Regions from separate parts of the Homo sapiens genome. Here region 1 is linked to region 2. The links come from fine-mapping of genetic effects on gene expression. A gene starts in region 2. The other region holds a variant in brackets. All regions are shown on one strand. Distances are between the middles of the regions.

Evidence for each region.
Region 1: its variant is fine-mapped to the expression of TOP2B in whole blood (TOPMed, PIP above 0.99).

Annotation. Positions count from the first base shown.
Region 1 is chr3:25,609,911-25,621,626 of GRCh38, forward strand. TOP2B (DNA topoisomerase II beta) reads right to left here. Exons shown (of 36, transcript NM_001330700.2): 22 at 10,772-10,906; 23 at 9,952-10,152; 24 at 8,744-8,939; 25 at 8,508-8,599; 26 at 5,521-5,676; 27 at 5,295-5,378; 28 at 2,605-2,799. Among named protein-coding and RNA genes, the nearest start is that of TOP2B, 49 kb to the right of the region's middle. The variant A/G (reference allele first, on the strand shown) is at 5,527.
Region 2 is chr3:25,658,241-25,669,956 of GRCh38, forward strand. TOP2B (DNA topoisomerase II beta) reads right to left here and starts at 6,667. Exons shown (of 36, transcript NM_001330700.2): 1 at 5,989-6,667. The coding sequence starts at 6,057. It overlaps MIR4442 (microRNA 4442), which reads right to left and starts at 6,699; the gene lies at 6,633-6,699. RefSeq lists enhancers at 5,317-5,446, 6,404-6,967 and silencers at 5,734-5,922, 5,877-6,236.

The sequences.
Region 1 (11,716 bases), 48 kb before region 2:
TAATTTTCCAGTACATTCAGTGAAATGACAGCTACTTAGAAGCAACCATAAAAAATAAGAAGGCAGCTTTTGATTATCAGAGGGATTTCCAGACCACTAGCTAAAAGGTACCTGCAAAATAAGTTTCTATAGCTCAGGCAGGCCTTTATATACCATTAAAAAATCCTGTAACCCCAGCTACTCAGGAGGCTGAGGCAGGAGAATTGCTTGAATCTGAGAGGCGGAGATTGCGGTGAGCCTCTGGCCTGGGAAACAAAAGCGAAACTCTGTCTCAAAAAAAAAAAAAATCTTCAAATTATTGAAGGAAAATAAGTAACATGTGTCTTGCACTGCTAGGCACTGTAAGGTAGACCCCAACCCTAAGACCATGGGGTAAAAAAACAAAAACAAAAAACACAGAGGCACACAACAAGGATGAGTCATTACAATACAAATAACAAATATAGAGGCTGGTACAGCCATGGCCCAAGGGGAGAAGTGAGAAACTCTGCTCAAGGCAGGGTCAAAAAAGTCTCCATGGAGAAGTACCTTTTCTGACTGAGTTCTAAAGGAAACACATAGGTTTGCCAGGTGGGAATTAAGGAGGGAAGGGCATCCCAGGCAGAAGGCACAAAGCCATCTAACAGGAATTAAATGTTTAAAGAATTAGGTTTTTAAATGTAATAGTCTGCTAGAACTCAAGGAAAAGTGAGAACAAAGTAGCCAGGAGAAGAAACACACAGAGGCATACAGGTGCTAACACTGTATACCAAGAATTTGTGCATAGTCAGTGGGGAGTCACTGAAGATTTTTAAGCCTAACAATCAGACTGACTTTTTAGAATTTTCATTCTAGTAGTAAAATATAGAACTTAAAGGAATGAAGTAGAAAAGGGGAGAAATCATGATTAAATGACTAGAAACAGAGAGTTAAGAGGACCACTTTAAAGTATCTCAGAGAAAACACAAAATTCTAAGGCAATGTCAAATGGGGACCAAGATAAGGGGGTGGATTTTGGAATTACTTAGTAGGCAGTCAATAGGACTTAGTTACTGATTAAATGACAAAACTCCCAGGTTTTTGGCTTATATCATTGATGGCTGATAGTGTCATTAACTGGGATAAGGCAAAGAACAGATTTTGAAATCAGGATAATGAATCCAGTTTCAGACATGCTGAGTTTGATGGGCTTCAAGCATTCAAGTGGCTATGAGCTTGGCACTCCTGAAAGCATTATAGCTTAGGAACACAGATTTAGGGGCCATCAGTATGAATGGAATAAGCTCTGGGCATAGATAAGGTTACTTGAGGGGACCATATAAGGTAGAGAAAAGAATGCTGAGAAATGAATCTGACAAACGCCAACTGAAAAGAAACCATCTTCCGAGGGAGACAGGCAAGAGTATCTGGGTAAATGAACCTGTGTGCCGTGGGGAGCCAAGTAAGAGGAAAGTAGTAGAGACCTGAGTTTATCAGAACAGAAGAGAAAGGCTACTCTGGTGTCAAAATGCACCTACGCTTCAAATATTAGCTCTGCACAGAGAACTCTCCAATCTCTAACTCTAGCTCTTTAGGCTCATTTTCCAAGCTCTAGTAAGAATGAGGCTATATTCCCACCTACTTGTTGGACACATCTAAACGTATACTTTCTGGATTGTAAAAATCAACCTGTCCAAAAACATTAGCCTCTCTAAGACCAACATGCACCCTGTTTCCTCAGCTCTGAACATTTTTTCTGATGTTTCCTTCTTCCGGCTAACTCTGGTCAATCCTGCTTGAGGTTAGGTCAACGCCATTTTTTTTTTTAATCCTCAATAGCACCTATCAGTGCCAATGACACAGGATGTGCTTGGTAGTTTAAGGACAAACACAAGTAAATAGTAAAAGATGACAGAGTACTTTGTAAGCCAAACAGACCCTTTCCCACTCTAAGTCTTCTCTAATGGATTATGATGTAGCACTAAAGTTTATACTTTAAAGTTGATATACTTATGGTTGGGTTTTTGGAGGTTTTTGTTTTGTTTTGTTTTGGCTTCCAAGATTTTTATTTTTATTTATTTATTTTTTTTTGAGATGGAGTCTCACTCTTGTCAACCAGGCTGGAGTGCAGTGGCACAATCTCGGCTCACTGCAAGCTCCGCCTCCCGGGTTCGCACCATTCTCCTGCCTCAGCCTCCCAAGTAGCTGTGATACAGGCGCCCACCACCACGCCCAGCTAATTTTTTGTATTTTTTAGTAGAGACGGGGTTTCACCATGTTTGCCAGGATGGTCTTGACCTCCTGACCTCATGATCCGCCCGCCTCAGCCTCCCAAAGTGCTGGGATTACAGGCGTGAGCCACCGTGCCCGGCCGGCTTCCAAGATTTTAACTTAGAAGGCAGCTGAGTGGAGTGTTTCTATTTCTCATTTTAAAAGCTGAATTAAGTAGCTCTTTACAATATGTGATCCTTTACCAATATGTTTTCCTTCTATAGATCAACTGCTGTCATAGAAGGATTTCCTATTACCATTGAAATATATTTTGAATAAAACAAAGCATGATTTAAACACGCATTAAAATTTTTTAAATTATACATATATTTCATTATAGAAATGAGTCTATCAATGACAAGAGGTATGTCATACCTTCTTCTTCTTCAGCAACTTTTTGCTGGCATCTGCCTTCATAGCTGTAATTTCAGGAATTATTCTTCTGCCATAAGGTGAGGGCATTGTCTCTTCCAACTGGAGTTTCTTCACCTTAGGTTTGCCAACTTTACCTTTAATTGCTTTTCCAGACATTCCAGCCAGAACATCTTCTCGTTCTTGAGATTCCACTTTCTAAAGTATAATCATAAGGCAGAAGGAACATAAACAACTTCTTAGAAAAGATAATCACTACTTCATAAAATACTGAAACAAATGTTATTCACTCAGTAAAGAATAAAGCTTTCCTTTTAACTTATCTAATTCAAGATTAAATAATGGAAAAAAAATAAAGAATTCTAAATCAGAAGACCTGGATTGTAATCCCAATTCATCTAACTAGTTTCCCATTTGTAATACGAGGGGGCAATAGTGACTAAATGACCTGAGAAGTCTCTGCCAATTCTTGGATCCCGTGATATATTATGGAATCAAGACCTCTGATAACCTAGTATCATCAAAATCCTAGCAAATCATATACAAAGGCAGTTCTGCTAATAAGTATGAAGTTATTTTTTTCTATTGCTTTAGTCGTAATAGAAAATATGAAAAAAAACCTCCTAAATGTAAATTAAAGTCAGAAAGTATGAGAAGTTAAAAGTGCCAATATAATTAGATTGAACTCAGGCAGGTCTATGTAATGATAAATTAGGATATAATCATGATTAATATCCTAGATTTTGCATTTACCAGAATTATTCCTTAAAATAAGCTTTGAAAGGCACAAGGAAAAAATGACATTTCTTTAGAGATTTTTTTAAAAGATCTTTGTAGCACAACAGTTTAATAGAAATTACCCAAGCTTTGAAATCAGATAGTTCTGGATTTCAACTGCACTTCCACTTACTAGTTATGTATCCTCAGGAAATAACAGAGGCCAGTTGCAGTGGCTCACACCTGTAATCCCAGCACTTTGTGAGGCTGAGGTAGGTGGATCACTTGAGCCCAGGAGTTTGACACCAGCCTAGGCAACATAACAAAACCTCATCTCTACACAAAAATGCAAAAATTAGCCAGATGTGGTGGCACACATGTCCCAGCTACTCAGGAGACTAAGGTAGGAGGACTGCTTGAGCCCAAGTGGTTGAGGCTGCAATGAGCCATGATTGTACCACTGCACTCCAGCCTGGGTGACAGAGCAAGACCATGTCTCAAAAAAAAAAAACAAAAAAGCCAGATAATTTATAGAGCATCCACCATGTGCTAGGCATTTAAAAAATCCTGTGATCCCCATTTTATAGATGAGGAAAGTGGGTGTCTGAGAAGATGAGTAATTCTATAATGATATAATTCCTAAGAAAGTGACTTAACCTCTCCAAGCTTCAGGATCCTTATCTGTATAATACAGGTTAATGATAACCTCATTCATTTGAAGTTGTGGTGAGGGTCACTCTAAGCATTACATAGAAGGCTGTGCCAGTGTACAATAGATATTCAATTAATGTTATCATTAGACTTTAAATGATACAGAGAGACATGAAATTTAAGTCTAAATCTTTTTAAATGTTAAAAATAAATACATCCAGAATTTAAATAAGTTGTTTGGACCTATTTCATTAATTGTCAAATAATAAAATAAGATGATAAATTAAAAGTGAAAGAGTATTTTTTGCTAGGGTTGTTTTGAATGACGACTTTTCAATAGTGAGGAAATGTACAGGCATAACCACAAAAGTTTCCTGTGTTTCACTATATTAGTGACCAAATTTAAAGCAATATCAGGATATCAATAATATTAGGAATAATTTTTCTTTTAATATATGATGGCTTCATTTTTAATGAATAATTTTTAAATAAATTATAACTCAGCAGGAAACAATGTGCAAAAAAACTAATTAATGAACAATATACGGAAAGCACAAAAAAAGGAAGACTCACATTGCAGCACTTGAAAGATCGTTGAGGGAGCCTAGAAAAATAGCACTAAAAAATTCTAAATTCTTTTAGGCAGCTAATTTACCACACTTGTTCTTAAGAGTTCTAATTCTGACTTAGACCACTGAAGTAAAAGTAGAGCATGTAGACAATAAATCAACAAAGCAACTTTAAAAAAAAAAAGTAGTATGAGTAATAAATGGTATTTTACATTTTGCTACTCAAAAATCAGGTATTCATAATGCTACCATTAATTCCAATATTTTAATTGGGCAATTTTAGAAAAGGTGTGCTTTTTATATCTCTACATTTTTTTTATTTTTTAAATTAGAATTCTACTTGGAAAAAACTATGTTATAACAATCAAATATTGAAATGTCTGTTATAAATGTAGAGACTATCATTCTACTCCTAAAATCAAAGTACTTACATTCAATTATACACACATATTAGCCTTACCTCTTTCCAGGAAAACATTAAACTGAATCAATTATTTAATCTAAAACTCAGTTAAAAATTTTTAACTAATTGAAAGCAGATTTAATTTATTCTAAATTTCAATTTCATAGCATTTAAATTCCTCCATACAAGAAGTTCTTTATAACTTCACATAACTAGAAGCTTAAGCCTAACTCAACTTATAAACATATTAACCTTCACAGAGTTAAAGAAAACTTTAAGATCACTTAAAAGAATTTCATTCTTGTTCATAAACATGACTTTTCCAAATAAATTTTAATAGAGACTTAACCTACATCCAGTTCTTCAACAAATGCCGCTAAATCCTCTTTCCAAAGATCTGAAGGAGATTTTCTTTTAAGATCATTGACCTCTCGCCCCTATAATAAAAAAGTACAGTTTAAACATTCAATAGTTTTAAAACATATGAAGGATAAATCAAAATACTTATTTTTGGAAAAAGAAAAAGATACAGATAACACTGAAATAGTTTCAAACTATTTAACCCACAAAAGTTCATACTTTTGC[A/G]TCTCTCTGTTTAATCAGTTCTTCAACTTTTTCTTTAGTAAGAGACCACAGAGACATATTTAAAATATAATTAAAATCTGGGCCTGAAGGAGTTCCTGAATCGGAGGAACTATCATCATGCTGGTTTTGTGTTTCATCCTCTTCTGCTGCCTGTAAAAAATAACAAACTGTATATTAAAGTCTTGTATAGTATCAAATTAATGTTGAATTTTATTGAATAATTAGTTTAAAATTCTACAAGTGCTACACTATAAATGCTACATCTTCAGGATGGTGGGGTTATTTTGGATTACCTATAAAAATATATTTCCTTATAAAAAGTTTAAAATTTTCTAAAGACGCACAATAAGATCTTCAGAAGGAATGGTATACACTATCCCTATTTATCCAGGAATCTGATGAAAAATTAACTGATTTCCTCAGGTACTCAGTAACAAAATGAGAGGATACCACATTTTAAAGTTAAGAGAGTAGAATTAATGTTTTATCACTGCATCTTGTCAGATTTTTATACTGGTGAGTGAATGAACAATCTGAAATACAAAATAAATACCAGTTATGAAAATTATTTTACAGTTATAATAAATATGTTAAGGTACATTCACTCGCTGAGGGTGAATTCTTAATAAAAACTTCTCTAAAGCCAGAATATTCATGTCAGGACTCAGAGAAAGTCCACTTAAGAATTTAAGAGTTGGTGAGTTAGAGTAAGAATTTCGTCAGGGTTTTGCTGAAATTTTATTCATCAGGCCCTTGTCTATAGAAACAGCTGCAACAAAAAAATTATTTTGTGCTAATATTAAATTTCAAAATACAATGAATTTAATAAAAGTTATTTTAGGTGATATCACCTTTAAATTTTTTAAAATAACAATAGCCATTAAATAAAATTTTATCTAAGTTGTTTAATTTAAAATGACTGAGTTAACCATGACACTCCATAAAGCAAAAAGTTTACTTTTGGTAACCAAAAGAGGAAAAAAAAAAAAAAAGCTTTATAATTAAAATTTGTAAGCAAAACAATGTATATACACAAAGTACAGTTTACGTGTACTTCAGAAGTAAGATAAAAATTAAAACTGCAAAGCAAGATGCTTCATTATATAAACAAAAACTATAAATTTGATTAAGCCACATTAGCCAAATACGGAATGCTATTGTTGAGTTGATAGATGATTAATAAGTACCTAGATAACTTACAATAAATAATTCTACACTTTTGAAAAATTCTTCATGAAACAGCTTGTTTCTATGGAGTATTCAGGTTGTTAGACAACTATAAAAATATCACTAGGATACAACAAAATCCTGTTTAGACCCACATTTAGTGGGTCTAGTCTATTAGATCTAGGTTTTGACTACACCCAAAGTATTGTTAAGAAGTGTTCTATGAATATGTGTATCTATCACCGTTAACATAAATATGACTAAGAACACTTCCAGAAATTAAAAAAAAAAATAAACTTTGCAAGTTCTAATGACAAAATTCCATTATGCTTTACAAAAAACTTTAATCTTCTAATTAGCTACTTTATAATTCTCTTTTCTCCAACTCTGTATAATAGGACACTCTTGTAAGAGCAGTTCCTTTTGTTACCTGAACTCCCCAAAATGTACACATGGCCAAGATGCTGAAAAAATTCTGATGGTGGTAATGCAATAACTGAAATCAAGCTAGGCTTTACCCATAAATTCTACTTCCACCAGAAGGACATTCTGACACTGTAGAAATCTTTATCTTTTAAGACTAAGCATTAAAAATTCATCAGCTTACTAGTTACTTTTTTTAAAAAAAAACATATAGTTTAAACCAACGGTGATACAGAAAGGCAAAAGGCAAGTGTTGTAGAAACCATAATTTGGGGTTCAATAAAACACATTAAGAGGAAAACAAAGGGCTTCAATCATCTTAACTCTGAATGCGCCCATCTTGTCCTACCGAATTTTCTTCAAATAATGAATAAGCCTATTATCTTAATATGTAATTGCTATTCTATATAACTTAGTCTAATTTTACTCACTTTAATATATGACTTTTATTGACTTCAAACTGAAAAATGTAAGCAAAAGCAATATTTCAATGTAGTTTGATAAAAAATACAAAAACATTATGATTGAGAACTCAAGTACAGGGAAGTTTAAAGGTTCAAGTTATGTCACACAATTATAACTATGTTTTAAAGATGTTAATGTTATGGAATCATATATGCACAAAATAATCTAATACCCAAAAAATTAATCATTCAACTTTTCTTCCTCTTCTGTAATAAATTTCTGTTCTCAATCACAATGTTGTACTGTTGCTTAAATTTTTCTTTTAGTTATACAAAACATCAAAAAGCTAATTGAGGGGACTCTCAAAGCTTCAATATCCCATTCATTTAACTATTATTACTATTTTGTGATCTGCAATGGGCAACTTACTTAATAAAACATCAGACTTTTAATCTGAAGTTCCAGGGTTTAAATCTCTGGCTAAAAATCTAAGCATGAGGCAGAGCTTGGTGTTTGATAAATACTGTCTATAATAATTAACATTTTGTCTCTTGTCTTCCCAGTATTAACCAAAACCAGATCAAGTGAGTGGTGACTGGATGCCATACTGTGAACATAGGCTGATTCTGGGTGCAACCAGTCTGATTCCCAGGTAATATACATGTACCTCACAAAAACCACCACCACAACACCTTTTAATGGCAGACTCAGGAAAAAAGGTCAAGGAGACTGAGCTACCTTCTCACACCTGGAGTCATTTCTCCAGGCTCTGGTTGAGTCACACTGGCCAAGTGCTTTGTGGTGGGTGTGTACTATAAATTCCTGTACTTTATCTGTTCTGTGGATAAACAGAAGACTTTAGTCTCTAAATAGACAACTCAGCACCTTTAGTAGTACTAAATTTAAAATTTAGGGGTTGAATTTTTGTTTGTTTTGGAAGTTGCTTTTAAAAGCTTCTCTGAATGTCTTTTTCTGCAAATGATTACCTTTTCTTGTGCTTCTTTCCAGGCTTTCACTGGGTCAGATTCATAACCTCTCTGGACTAACATTTGAATCAAATCTTTCTTTGACCTATTCTCTATGTGAGGGAAAAATAAAGTTAGGATCAAGATAAGAGATTCAATTTGTATTTGCTTATATTCTACTGATAAAAATGTCTTCTATTAATAAAGTTTTTTTTCCATTTTAACTAATGTTCAAATTTTTAAAGGTTGTATCTTACCTATAGTAATTTTCCCTTGTATCTTCTCTAAAATGAAACGGGCTTGATTGTTAAGCTTTGTAGATTCTGCTCCCAACATTCCCACAAGCCACTCCTTACGTAAACCGTAATAACTTAATCGTAAATCAAAGAATTCTTTCAGAATGTCTTGCACAGTTTCATATTTCTTCAGACATCCCATATGATCAAAAAGTACCTAAGCAAAACACATATACTTTGCAGATCATATAGATCTGTACTGGTATTTTAACTTATATAACATCTACAATACTTAAAATAACCATAATATATAACCATAATGCATGTGTGTGAACACAGACTACCCCTAAAAACCATTAAACAGAACTAAGACTATTAAGCACATTTCTGTAAATATTTCTTTGGTGACTGCAAGCCAATAAATTCAATTCTCACAACAAAAGTATTTAGGAATAATATTGAAAGACAAAAATAGGCCTTAAAAAAAGGGCTCTTAAAGTAACCATAAAACCACCTACAAAAATGATTTTTCCCCAAACTGAAAACATACATATTCTATTGCTAAGTTTAAAAATGTTCAAGTTTTTCCTCCCCCATATATTCTGTGTATACGCATTTGTCCCCTTTCTCTCGCTTTCACATTTACTTGTGCTATAATCCAGTCACCCAAACTCCTCTCTATCCTTTTTCTTTCTTCCATCAGCCTTTCTCAGCGGATTATGGCACTTTTTCTCAGCCACTGTACTACTGCTGAACTTTTTTTACTTTTTTAGATCTAAAAGCTAATTTGGAATGGAACTTGAATCACACACTTAAAGTTTCTACCTTCCTCCCCAGTTGTATAAATAAAGATAAATGTGCAAGTTTAATAAAGCAGATTAGAGTTATGAGTACTCTACAGTTAAAATGCTAATAGAGATGGCCATAAAGTACACAAAGGCCCTGCAATAACCACTCTCATAACTTTTAGTCAATGTGTGTGAAGATGTGTGTATCCTGTGTTTTCAAGCCCAGATGCATAAACACAGAGTTGAGAATAAGGGTAGTGGACAATACTAGAAGAAAGAAATGTGCCCCTAGAATCTTCAGCAAATCTGCAGGATGGGAAAAAAAAAAAAAAAAAAATGCCTTCAGGCTTACTATAGCCACTCCCATCATGAAACCAATTATAATAATCCGACTTATACCATGCAAGAAAGATTAAATTAACAGTAAATCTAATAAATTACCATGGAATTACAAGTAAGAGTAGTTTGAAGTTTAAAAACTTTATGCAGTCCAGCAGCTTCTGCTTGTGCTAGTTTCTCTTCAGTCATTTTCACCACAAATTTCACAGTTGTGTCAGTATGATATTCTTTATAATCAGAAATTAATGCTGGTGTTTTATCTGTTCCATTTAGCATAGGTTCTAAAACCTGTTCTTTATATACCTATAAAGATTTAAAAATTAGTGATTCTTTTCATGACACACTCTCATGTTCTCATACTACAAGTCATACAGTCTTGAAAATTCTCAACTCTCATGGGGAATTAAAAAGGAAACCTCAATCTCTATCATCTCCTATCCAATCAGTATAGAAGGCAATACACAGGGATCTCGGTGGTGGGAAAAGACATAAGAAGTAATGGTGCTGACCCACTCATACTCTAAAGGGCAAGATAAAGGCTGAGTATGAAAAGGATGACATCAACTGGAACTGTCAAGAGGTGACATGCATACTTTTAGATTTGTAAAGCTGATGCTGACATGAATTTACTGACCATATTTACAAGAATTAAAAACACTGTCATATTCTACTCCTTTTATTTTAAATAAATACAAAGATAATAGTCTATAAAAGCCTTACCTAACATAAGTCATACTACGCTACTTAGATATAAATACTATTTAAATATTCAAAGCACAAATTCAACTGAAGGGTAAAAGAAGGTACAGGAATTTTTTAACACTACGCACGCTTAGGACCAACAACGGTGGAATCATCCTTACCAGAAAAAATTGCTTAATACACTGCCCTTCCCTCAGGCAGATCACATATTTACACTGACCTGTGTCCAAGTTCTAACTGGAAGCTCTGTAATTTCTACTGTGTTTCTGTCCACTACAAATATTTCACCACTGACTGCATACTGGTTTTGACCAAGTTCTTGAATCGTGCCTTTAAAGTTTTTGTAGTTTGGAAGCTGTAGAGAAAAAGGTAAATAGCATTGACTTCTCTCTTGAGTACCAGTACCATGAGTCTATGGTCTAACATTGACAGATTAACACAACTGAAACAGAATTTCTCATCCTCAATTGTCCCTTTCCAACTGATCAATTAAGCTTGAATTCATAGCTTCTGTTCATACAACCTGAACATCCTCCAATCTCAAAATGTTAGTATCATCTTTCCTAGTCTTCCTAGAACAGTACTTTCTTTCAGCCTACTTCCCCTACACCTACTTCTCTCCTAGATCAATATCCTTTAAATTCAAACTCCTTGGGCCTTACATTGAAAGCATTTCATAGTCTGGACCCAATCTGGCTTTCAATTTTTTCTCTAATGATTTGTCTTACAAAACCACTACTCTTCTCCCATATTTTGTTTGACTATTTTGAATATTCTCACTTTCACTCTATCCACAAGTCCTGACACATATTCAGGCCCAACCCCATTCCATTCATCATTCATCTACATAAATCTTACTCATCCTTCCCAACTGAATTACAAGTCCTCTCTCCCTCTTCTAAGTTTTTATTTGTTTTGAGACAGGGTCTCCACTTTGTCACCCAGGCTGGAGTGCCGTGGCACGATATCAGCTCACTGCAGCCTCAACCACCTGGGCTCAAAGGATCCTCCCACCTCAGCCTCCCAAGTAGCTGGGGTTACAGATGCGTGCCACCATGTCCAGCTAATTTTTGTATTTTTGTAGAGACAGGGTTTTGCCATGTTGCCCAGGCTGGTCTTCAACTCCTGAGCTAGTGATCTGCCCAGCTCAGCCTCCCAAAGTGCT
Region 2 (11,716 bases):
ATAATAATAATTATTATTATTATTTACCAAAAGCATTTTGAATAAATTTGCGTTGAGACTAACGATTGAAAACTTGTTAAGTTTATTTGTAATTTATTTCCCTGCCTTAATTTATGTGAACAAATTACCAAACTACTGATAGTAATAAACAATGCCAGCATCCAATTAAATTGGAATCTAAAAAATCAAGGCTACATTTTCATTATCATGAAGACAATAAAAGTGTAAAATAATCACCATATTAAATTTCCTACACATATCTAAAAGTTGTTTTAATTATATTCTTTTTCATTTATAAATATGATGATAACATCATTGACTTTTTCTGAATTTCAAGTCAGCTGCCAAATTAAACAAAGCATTTAGGGAAAATTTAAAATTATAACAAAAATACCAAAATAACTATATAGACTATATATTTTAAATATTAACCTATCTTATGGCACTTTTGCAATATTGCTAATGCCTAATAAAAAAACAGATTTAATACTAATCCAAGATTTGATCTTTTTCAAGAACATTTCTCAGTCTTCAGAAGAAAATGGAAAACATTCCAGTAAAACTTCCTATTTTTCAGAACGACTATACACCAAGATCATTCTGCAAAACAAAACAAAAGATTCTTCAATGGACAGAATTGTCACCTGAAATATAGCAATTTGGCAGAAGCACCCAGTTTGTTTTTCTGAGGGAGAATGAATTGCTGACAAACAGGGTAAAGGAGATGGTTTGCCAGTTGGTACTAAAAAAGAACTGAGCCACTCATTCACATAATCAACACAGAAAGCTCACCATCACCAGGCCAACAAGAGTGGAAGTGGGGGCTGGCAGCCTAGCAACGAGCCCCTTCTTTTACCTTCTTCTGTACAATCCCCTCAGACTTAACACCAACCTTTTATAATGTCTCCTCTCTCTTTTCTCCCTCAAGGCTGCCATCCCATGATGTTCATTCTAACCATATTTCACCTATATGTAAATGGAGAGGCCATGTTATCTACCCACCATTAATGAAGCAAAAAGCAACAAACTGTCCCCTGTCTATGCTCCTTCAGAAATACCCTTCTAAACAAAGGGGCAAGGAAGAGATAAGAGATACTTAAGACAGTAACAAATGCTTAGACTTCTGCTATGAAAATAGGCTTTCTCTATAATAAAGGGAATGAAAATACTTATCACTGGATTAAAAAAGAAGGGAGAATGTATGTGTGAACCCATCTGGGAGCTACTATGTGCCAAGCACTACGATAATCTTAATTAATTCTTATATAGTATCTCCATGAAATAGACACTGTTATAATTCCCTTTGTACAGATGAGATAACTAAGGTTGGGATAAGTGTTTTCCCAAAGCTAACAAAACTAGTACTTGACAAAGGTGAATTATGAAACTAGATGATCTGATTTCACAGCCCATACTCTTAGCATTATGCTATACTAAGTACACATATTCTGAAAAGGAAATATACTCCTTAGCTTTTTGTATGAAAGTAAAAGGTTAGTAGAAAAAGACAGGTATATCCCAGATGTCTCCTTATTCTGTCTTATCAGAGTATAAAAGATGAGTTGTTTTGTCTTTCAATGTTTTTAAAGTTGAAGGCTGTGTAAATGTTAAGAACACTGAGTCTGGTTTAAATTCCACCTGTGCCTTAACCATGTGCCTAAGAATTTGTTACCTAATCTCTAAACCCGTTTCCTTCTCTGCAAATAGGAATAACTATAGCTACTTCAACTTTTCGTTAAAATGGGGTTCTATACGTGTTAATACTTTTAAAAATTCAAGAAGTTTATTTTTTAAAGTGTACTCAGTAAAATGCAATTGTTGCCACCACCTAACCAACAAACCTGGGATTACAGGTGAACATACTTCGATTCAGAAAAATTAAGTTTATTAAAAACGTGCCTAAATACTGCTATATCATGTACTTGAGAATGTATCTAAAAAACACTGCTACTTAAACTCTTGTCCTACTAATGACAGAAGACTTTTTAGGAAGTCAGCATGTCAATTATCCAATTTTTAAATAACTGAGACTGGATTACGTATCCAGTTCTTTGTTTAACACTCTGAAGGACATAAACAAGGAAAATACATGCTCTCTAACTTCAGAAATTTGTAATATTAAGGCAAAGTTATCATGCATGAAAGTTACATAAAAAATAAAGACTTCTGTTTTATGATTCATGAGAGTAACAAACATTCAATGAAAGAAAAAGATGAGTATCAACTGGAAAATAATAATGTGACAAGGCTCTGAGCTAGCCCTGAAGAACAGTTAAGATTTAGACTAGTAAAGAGAAGTGAAAAAGTAATTCCAGATGGAAGGCAAATATGTAAAGACAAAGTGACAAAAACAAGCCTAACTTGTGTAGGGGACAGTGAAGAGATAAATCTAACTATGGAGACTATAATAAATAAATTTCATTGGAAAGGGCACATAGTTTATGAAAGTCTGGCTCAGCAATTTAGACTCGCAACAGTAAACCACTAAAGCAAGGTTCTTAAAATAAATCTTTAAACAATATTTAAATACATAGTCATGTTTAATTAGAGATATTCACACTCCAAAAATATGTTATATATTTCAAAAAATGTGACTTTTGAGAAAACTACAATGTTATTTGTGGTTATACAGTTTTTCAAAAAGAGACTTTACTGTTAGAGATAAATACTGAAATATTTACAGAGAAAGTGATAAAATTCTAGGATTTGCTCTGCTTCAAAAGAATGAGAAGGGATAAAGTGGGTGGTCTTAGGTTGATTTTTTTTTTTTTTTTTTTGAGACGGAGTTTCACTCTTGATGCCCAGGCTGGAGTGCAATGGCGTGATCTCGGCTCACCGCAACCTCCGCCTCCAAGGTTCAAGCGATTCTCCTGCCTCAGCCTCCCGAGTAGCTGGGATTACAAGCATGCGCCACCACCCCAGCTAATTTTGTATTTTTAGTAGAGATGGGGTTTCTCCATGTTGGTCAGGCTGGTCATGAACTCCTGACCTCAGGTGATCCGCCTGCCTTGGCCTCCCAAAGTTCTGGGATTACAGGCGTGAGCCACCGCACCCGGCAGGTTGATAATTATTGAAGCTTAAGGCTAAATAGAGGGAAGCTTGTTATACTACTCTGGTTACCACTTTTTGAGATGCTTAACATTTTCCATTAAAAATTTTTTTTAATCTACCAAGTTAGAATATTGTTGGGAAAAAGATTAAGTCATATAACTGTATTCTAGTATTTCCACAAATGTCTTTGTTACAATCACTTATGATACAAGACTGACAGAATGAACCAGACTATTACTATCTACTAATCAAAGCTCTACAAAGAATTAATTCAAGAAACCCTGCTGCCTTAAGAGAAGCCTTTGTAACTGCTATACATTTTAAATCAAAATAGCTTTGCCATGTTTATATTTTTCACTTTTTTTAATTATAAAAAATTCTGGTTGAGATACTCCTACAAATCAAACACAAACCAAATGAATTATTAAAATAAGTTAATGCCAGTCCTAAAACCACTTGGCTTTGTAGTTTCAGATATTGAAAGGCAAATTTTCATGCAATGACATTAACAACACATGCTGGCATGCATCCCAACAGTAGTTAATATCAGCAACACATGGCATACAACTCCTCACCCAGAAGAAAGAAATCAGGGGCTAATTCTATTTTTATTTCTTTCTGTTACCACAAGCAGGTGGCAACATAACACTAGCTTCAATAAAGCAGACGAAGTTACCTTTCTCAAAACAGATGACCACTGCAATAAAGCCCCAACTCGTGCAAAGGAAAAATTAATTTGCTTTTACCCCAGCTAAAAGATATTTTATGTAAAAGCAACTGCAATCTATTATTTGAGTGTGCATTTCTTGAAGTTCACCAATAATAACAAACATCATTAAGCCCAGCACTGTGCTACACACGTTATCTCATTTCATTCTCAATGCAACCTTATTTGACAGATAAAAAAACAGGCTTAGAAAGGTTAGGTTCCTTGGGAAAAGTCCAACTAAATGTGTTGGAGAGACAGTATCTGAACCTACATCAGCCTGACGTCAAAGCCCATAACTACCTCACTATATTGCCTCCCATAAAATCAAACCAGTCTATATGATCAATGATGTATATTATGGACATAAAGATGCTCATATAACCTTAGAGTAAGCATCAACTCTTAAAGAAGACTTACAGGAGTGATTATCTTTTTAATAAACTTCTAATTCCATAAGATATACTCTATAAATAAAACACTAAGTGATCTTCACTTCTCTTTATTTTACTGCATTTCCCATATTTTCCATAATCTGCTTTATAATGAAAATTCCTTTAATCAATAAGTCAATTTCAGTTTCAAATGGATTTTTCTATCTTGAATGAGATGCTCCAAGTTTTGCTAAATTAGCAATGAGTTTCCTATGGAGCTTGAAAGAAATAAATTGTCATTTAATTATCTACAAAATTATATAACAGTTAATTAAAGTACTGCTATCAAATGTTAAAGCCAACAATCCACTACGGAGCAAAATGTTTACCATTATAGAACCAGAGGTCTTCAGAGGAAACACCGATCAGGCCTCAACACTTCCAAATAGTGAATGAGAACTTACAATACCATTTGGCTGTCTAAGTCAATTTTCCGATGTCTGATTTTAGTGACAGGGGTAAAAGCCATTAATTCTGAAAGTCATTATTTTGCATGTATGTGTCCATCTCCTCCTTCTTCCTCTCACATACCCTCTACTGCAAGTCCACATGGACCACTAACTTAGTATCTGACATTTTCTCTCCTGGCCCTAGTCCCTTCATACTTTCATTCTACATAATCGGAGTAATATACAACATTCAAAGAATTTCAACAATAAGAGCATGGCAAGTTATTTTGCAATGTACCCTGGCACGCAAACATAAGTGATTAAAATGTTTTGCTGCTGTCAGTAGCACCCTTTTTATAAGAAGCAGTTGTCAATATAGCACAAATTGCTATTCAACTCACCCAAACCTCACCCAAACAAAGAGAAAACGAACTAAGTAACAAAAATGCCTATATGAAAGCTCCCTTGAGGTATTTAAAACAGGGACGGGGGAACAGACCGTCAAAAGTCCAGAAAAATGTAACACTTTTTACTTTTCTCCGAAATACCTAGGTTTTCTGTATAGGAAATGACCCTGGTCTGAACTCTACGCTGAGCAAGTGAAATGCCGGCGAATTATCGATCTGTCGTGGGAATCCAGTCTCCCTTCCTCCTTCCGCTGCAGTTACTTCTACTTCCCAGCAAGAACTGAGCGTCGAAATCCTTTAACTTCAGGACTAAGCACTTCAGTCACCTCTCCAGGACATCCATTCAGCCCTCACCCCGTTACACCTGCGATGCTGACGTAGACAAGCACTTCTTTTAATAATCTCACCCTGACAGAGGGACGACCTACAGTATTAACTGCTGTGAAAGTCATCCCCAATGCGCTCTCAATTGAGCGCATTGAATGAGGCTTTCCAAATTGAAGTGCAAGTTGCTGTAGAAATCCCAATGCATTCTTCTTTGAGATTAAAGCCCCAGAAAGAGCTGCATTTAGAATACACACACACACACACCCCTTTTCCCAGGGTTTTCTTGAACTACATTTGGAGAAAATGCTGCCCCACACAGACACACTTGCATTATCGCCATCCCCACCATTTCAGGTTCGGCTGCCCCGGAAGAGTCTGGTTAAAAAGAAAAGAGAGGAAGCGGGGGCTGTATGTTACGTTCGCGGTTTTGTCCCCCCAAAGTTTCAAGTACACATTACGCTCTGGCAGTCAGGACTTCCAGAGACGTACAGAGAAAGAAAGAAAGAAAAGGCGCGGGGAGCGGGCTGGAGGATTCTGCAAGCACAGGCCCCTATGGAGCGCCCGTTCGGGGGACGGGATTTCCCTCCCTTTCCCCTCCCCCGCCCGTTCGGAATTCCGCCCCCGCCGCGGGCCCGGAACAATGCAGCCGCCCGTCCCGGGGACCAGCCACTTACCACCCAGGTCAGTGCCCCGTTGCCGCCGCCCACGCCGGCTCCCGCGCCGCAGCCACCCGACTTGGCCATGGCGAGTGCCTCCAGCTCACAGGCCCTGAGGCCGCAGCCGCCGCTCCCGCCTCCCTGCGGGCCGCTGGGCCCCGCCGCTCCGCACCCACCGCTCCACTCGCCGCACTCCTAGCCGCGCCGACCCCCGCGCCCCATCGCGAAGATCCGGAGCGGACGTCCAGCCGAGCCCGCTGAGGAGGCCGCGCCGCCGGCTGCCCTCAAACTCGAGGCGCGGCGTCCGCGTCGCCCGGGCCTAGCGCGGCGGCTGAGGAGAAAGCAGGGAGCGACCGGCGGCGGCCGAGCGGCGGCGTTGCCTTCTCGCCCGCCCGCGGGCGCCGCTGCAGGCCGGGCTGAAGCCCGGGCGTGCGAGCCGCGAGGGCGGCCGGGGAGCCCGAGGCGCTCGGACGTGGCGAGGACGCAGAGGTGCCTTGTCCTTCTCACACTCCGCGAAGGCCAGCCACTCGAGTCGCCAGAGTAGTCGTCCCGGTCGCCGCCGCTGCTTCAAAGGCAGCCTTAGCCTCGCTGCAGCCCCGATTTCCTCACACACACACACCGAGAGGGACAATAAACAGAGCCGCCGCCGCCGCCGCCACGGTCACCTCCCTCTTGTCCGGCATAACACCGCACACACACATTTGCACACCGGGGAGAGAGGGAGGGCGCGGCGGCCGCCCCCGCTGTCAGTCAGCGCCATGCTGTCCAATCCGGGCCTTGTCGCCACAGCCTCTCGGCCAATCCCAAAATTCCAAGCCCCCTGGAGGGGCGGGACCCGAGGGGGGAAACGTCATTGCGGGTAGCAACCGAAAGGAAGACTTGGGGTTTTTGTTTGTGTGTGTGTCTGTGGGTTTTCCATTTGAAGGGAGAGCAGGGGCTGCTTCAAGGGTCAATTGAGGGCGGCAAAGGGAAAGGGTCGAATTGGCCTCGGGTCGATTGTAATCCTCCAAGCGTGCTGTTTACTCTGAGACCTAACCGGGAATCCGAAGCGTTTGCCTGGGGCCTCTAAGGATGAGGATGGGGGCGGGGTGGGGATGGGGGTGGCAGGAAGAAGCCGGGGGCCGTCCCAAAGGGAAATTATTTTAAAAGAGCGGTTGTAAACCGCAGGCAAGACGTTGTAGACCACTGGTGCAAGGAGGCCCCGTGACCCGGCCTCCCCAAGGGCCTAAGTGGACGCTGCTGTCGAAAAAAATCATCTCAGACCTTCTCCATCTCCTTCTTCCGTCTCCTCCCCTCACCCCAAAAGAGCATATGGTCAGTTTCAAGAAAACTACATATGAAAAGCTTAAATGATAAGGGACACACAGAGAATGTTCTAGGGAAAGAATGCAGGGTGGGTTGAGTGTTCTATTTCTACTCTTTGTTGACCTTTCTTCTCTGAACAATGCAGAGATGTCACTGTCACTTTTCTCATCTGTCCAGAACTGTGCCCCCTGCCTCTAAGAGGGCATGCTTAATTTTTAAAACTGTTTTCAGTGGAATTTTCAAATGCACAGTAAGGAATAATTTCATTCACATTAAAGCTTTCTAAGAATGAAAATTACCAATACAGCAACATCACAGTCTTTGGCAGATGGAAGATGGCTTTACTTCTTCCTGTTTTTCAGTGTAATTCCACTCAAGTATTTATTGGGCGCACACTCTGCCACGCTGTGCCAGGCTCTGCGATGGGTTCAAAGTAAAAACAAGGCCCCTGATTTCAAACCATTTATAACCTGGCTTGTGAGACAGACTAAAAGGGAGCCAACGATCACCAAAATGAGTACTTGAAGGCATGAAGTGCCACCAAAGAGTTGTGATGAAAGCTTTTTATAAAGATGAAAACAGTATTACTGTTTTTTGAAGAGGTGTTTTTGTGAACTTCCAACTGTGCATTTCCTCTCAAGGGAAAACAAAAATGTCTCAGGTCACATCTTTAAACTGCATTCTGAGTCTAGAGGTGGAGAACTCTGAAACATGGAAATAATTTAAACATAGTTTTTTTAATTAGCTCTCTGATGGCCATGTAACTTTGCCATACTAGGGACTTCAGAACAGTGAAGCCTTTCTTTACCTTGAACTTGGGGTGCAAACTTTTCTGAACCTGACCAAGTATCCATAGCCTTGTTATTTAACTTCCCTGAGCCTCAGTTTAGTGCTTGTTAAAATGATCTTGTGTTCTTACTGTGAGTTTGCATCTCCAAGTACACATGTATTTTGTTTGAAAAGGGGTAATTTTAAAGGCAATGAGTTTTTTTTATGAAGATGTACTAGGTAGAAGCTAAGCTATAAAATACATAGCTGTCTCCTTTTTTAAACTTAAGTTGTCAAAGCTCTTTATCTTCCGTTTTTGTTGTTGTTTTTAGAGACAGAGTCTTGCTCTGTCACCCAGGCTGGAGTACAGTGGCATGATCTCGGCTCACTGCACCCTCCACCTCCCAGGTTCAAGCAATTCTCCTGCCTCAGCCTCCCAGGTAGCTGGGATTACAGGCACCGGCCACCATGCCTGGCTAATTTTTTTTACTTTTACTAGAGACGGGGTTTTCACCATGTTGGCCACCCTGGTCTCGAACTCCTGACCTCAAGTGAGCCGCCCATCTTGGCCTCCCAAAATGCTGGGATTACAGGCATGAGCCACCGCACCCAGCCTAGGTTCAGATTTTGAAATGAATAAAACAATATATTCAAAACTCAAATAGATTAATAAAAATAATGTTCTTTTCACTTGCCTCATATGTGAGGCATTGAGTCCTTTTGTCTTCTCAGTATGAAAAAGCCTTTTAATAAGTGTTACTAGTTTTAAGAAAATACTGACTTACCCAGAAGAATTGCAAATAAGAATTGCTGAATATACATGAAAATCAACATTTTTAAAGCAGAGATTTGTGATGAGTGGAAGACGGAATCTAGATTAAAAGTATCTCAGCTTCTAAAGAATTGTCCTTTTTAACTGTGCAGCAGACTTAGCATATCTTTATGATAAAATTGATTGTACGCAACTTGAGCATAGCTTTCTCTTCTGGGGTAATGTGAAGTAATTTTCAATTAGGGGTGGATCACCTGAGGTCAGGAGTTCAAGACCAGCCTGACGAACATCATGAAACCCCTTCTCTACTAAAAATACAAAAATTAGCCAGGCGTGGTGACCTGTGCCTATAATTCCAGCTACTGGGGAGGCAGACATAGGAGAATCACTTGAACCTGGGAGGCAGAGGTTGCAGTGAGCCGAGATCGCACCACTGCACTCTAGCCTTAGCGACAGAGCGAGACTCCATCTCAAAAAAAAAAAAAAAAAAGCTTCTATATCAGGTTTGTCTAGTTTTAGATACTACTTTGTATGTATATATTACATATAATGACTTAATTTCTACCCCACAGCAAGCACTGACCAAAAGGAAAAACTAGAAATTAGTCATTTCTATAAACTGTATAAAGGTCTTTATTTAATCAAGATTTCTGAGTAGCTTCCATAGGAGCTTATCCTAACTACTTCAGAATTTCTATTTTTAGATCTTATATTTCCTTATTGTAGCAATGAAAAAAAAATTAAATGCCTACTGTGTTAGGTACTCAGGACCTGGGAATTTAAAAAGGTGATGAAGACGCATTTTCTGCCTTAAGTTCACCCTTGAATTATAGTTTCAAGCTAATCATTTAATTGAAAAGCAATTTTATATTTATTCATTTGCTGTTTAATAAACAATTTACCTCGCTTTGGGAGACCAAGGCAGGCAGATCACCTGAGGTCAGGAGTTCAAGACTAGCCTTGCCAAGATGGCAAAACCGCATCTCTACTAAAAATACAAAAATTAGCTGGGCATGTGCCTGTAATCCCAGCTACTCGGGAGGCTGAGGCAGGAGAATCGCTTGAACCCGGAAGGCGGAGGTTGCAGTGCACCAAGACTGCACCACTGCACTCCAACCCGGGCAACAGAGCAAGACTCCATCTCAAAAATATATATATACATAAAAAATAAACAATTTACCTGATGAGCCACACCTATCATCACACTTTATACACAGTAGGTAATTTAATCAGTAAGTAAATTATCCAAGAAAATAGCAACTCAAAACCATACTTCTAGGTATCTGCCAAAGTTTCAATAGTTTCCATTTAAATGTTGTGTATCATTCCAACACTGAGATTCAGTTGGGAGGAGGAGGACAAATCTTTAACCTCGGGAGCATTTAAAGAAGCTAACATTTGAATTCAAAATTCAATGTCTATAATTTCACCTCTCCCTTCTCATTGCATTAATTTTGTGGATCCTTACGATATACAAGGTTGCTGGACTAAGAAAAATTTTTAATGTCTGGCCTATGGTAGACTCAGTAAGTGATTGCCTAGTTAATGACTATTGTATGTTTAAATGTAATTTAGTTTGTTATAGTTCTTTAGAAGTGAGCTCAAGGAAGAAAAGTTACTATCAATGTGACTTTTTGGTTTTCAGTATTTCTCTAGTAAATATTATAGTACATTATTAACTCTGCTTCTTCTAACTATTTAATTGCTACAGTTTATAAGTATATTTTTACTTTTAAAATGATATTTAAGCACCAAAAGTAACAAGTGTTTGCGGATGGCTGAAGATATCAATGATCATATTCCTGAGTATTATTACCACTAGGAAGACAGACAGCAGGTAAAGTTCTTCAATTTCTACCTGCAATAATTACAGGGTACAGTATTTGTTTTGATTTTTTGTTTTGCAGGAGTTTGTTTAGATTGGTTTTGGTCAAATAAGCTACACTGATCTTCTGGTGACATTCTAATTATACAGACAGAAGGGACACTTTCACTTATATGATATAGCTCAATAATATTCAGGGTTCTCAGTAATTCAGGGTTCTCAATAATAATTCAGGGTTTTCATACAACGTGGAGAATAAAATTAGCATGTGTCTTAAGAAAGTTGCTCTTGGCCTTTGTAAAAATGTCTAATAATTGGATGGACTTTCAAAGATGCATCTTGTTTTGAGAAAATTCTGCTTTGGGGGACATTAGATGTTATCATGCACCTGCCCTTCACCAACAAGATACACAATCTATCATGTGTATTACTAAGTTGTATTTGAAGTTTCTGGTTGCCCACAGTCATCTGATATTGTTACTTCATAGGTTTATAAGACTCACATCTTAAAAAATGAGACAGCAGTGGCTTTCCCAACTCGACTGTTTTCATTTCAGAAGAGTAGGGAATGGCCGGGCACAGTGGCACTTGTCTGTAATTCTAGCATTTTGGGAGGAACAAAACAAAAAAGGTACCTGCAAGTTATGTAAGGTGGTAATTAAAAATCAAAAATTCGAAAAGATACCATCTTTTAGTATGCCAATTAATAACAGAAAATAGCAAATTATTTCTGTTTCTTAAGAATTAAGAGGTCAGCCCAGATGTCATATATAACTAGTATCTTTATCTATCAGCTTTCCTCTTTGAGATGATTGTCAAAATGTGGAAAGATCCAGAAGGAGGCTGAGAAATGCAGACTCTTTAAGGAATATATTTCCATTTTAAATGTTGTTTGGGAAAAGTAAAAGAGTAAGACTAGCCTATTCAATAAAGGGTATACCACACAGTGCTAGCTTGTCAAAGAGAGTGTCTGGCATACAGTTGGTGTTCAATAAATAATTGCTTTACAAAAGGATATGAGGTGTTATCAAGAAGCCTCCCTCAGAAAAATTTCATGCACCATCCATGGTGGTGCT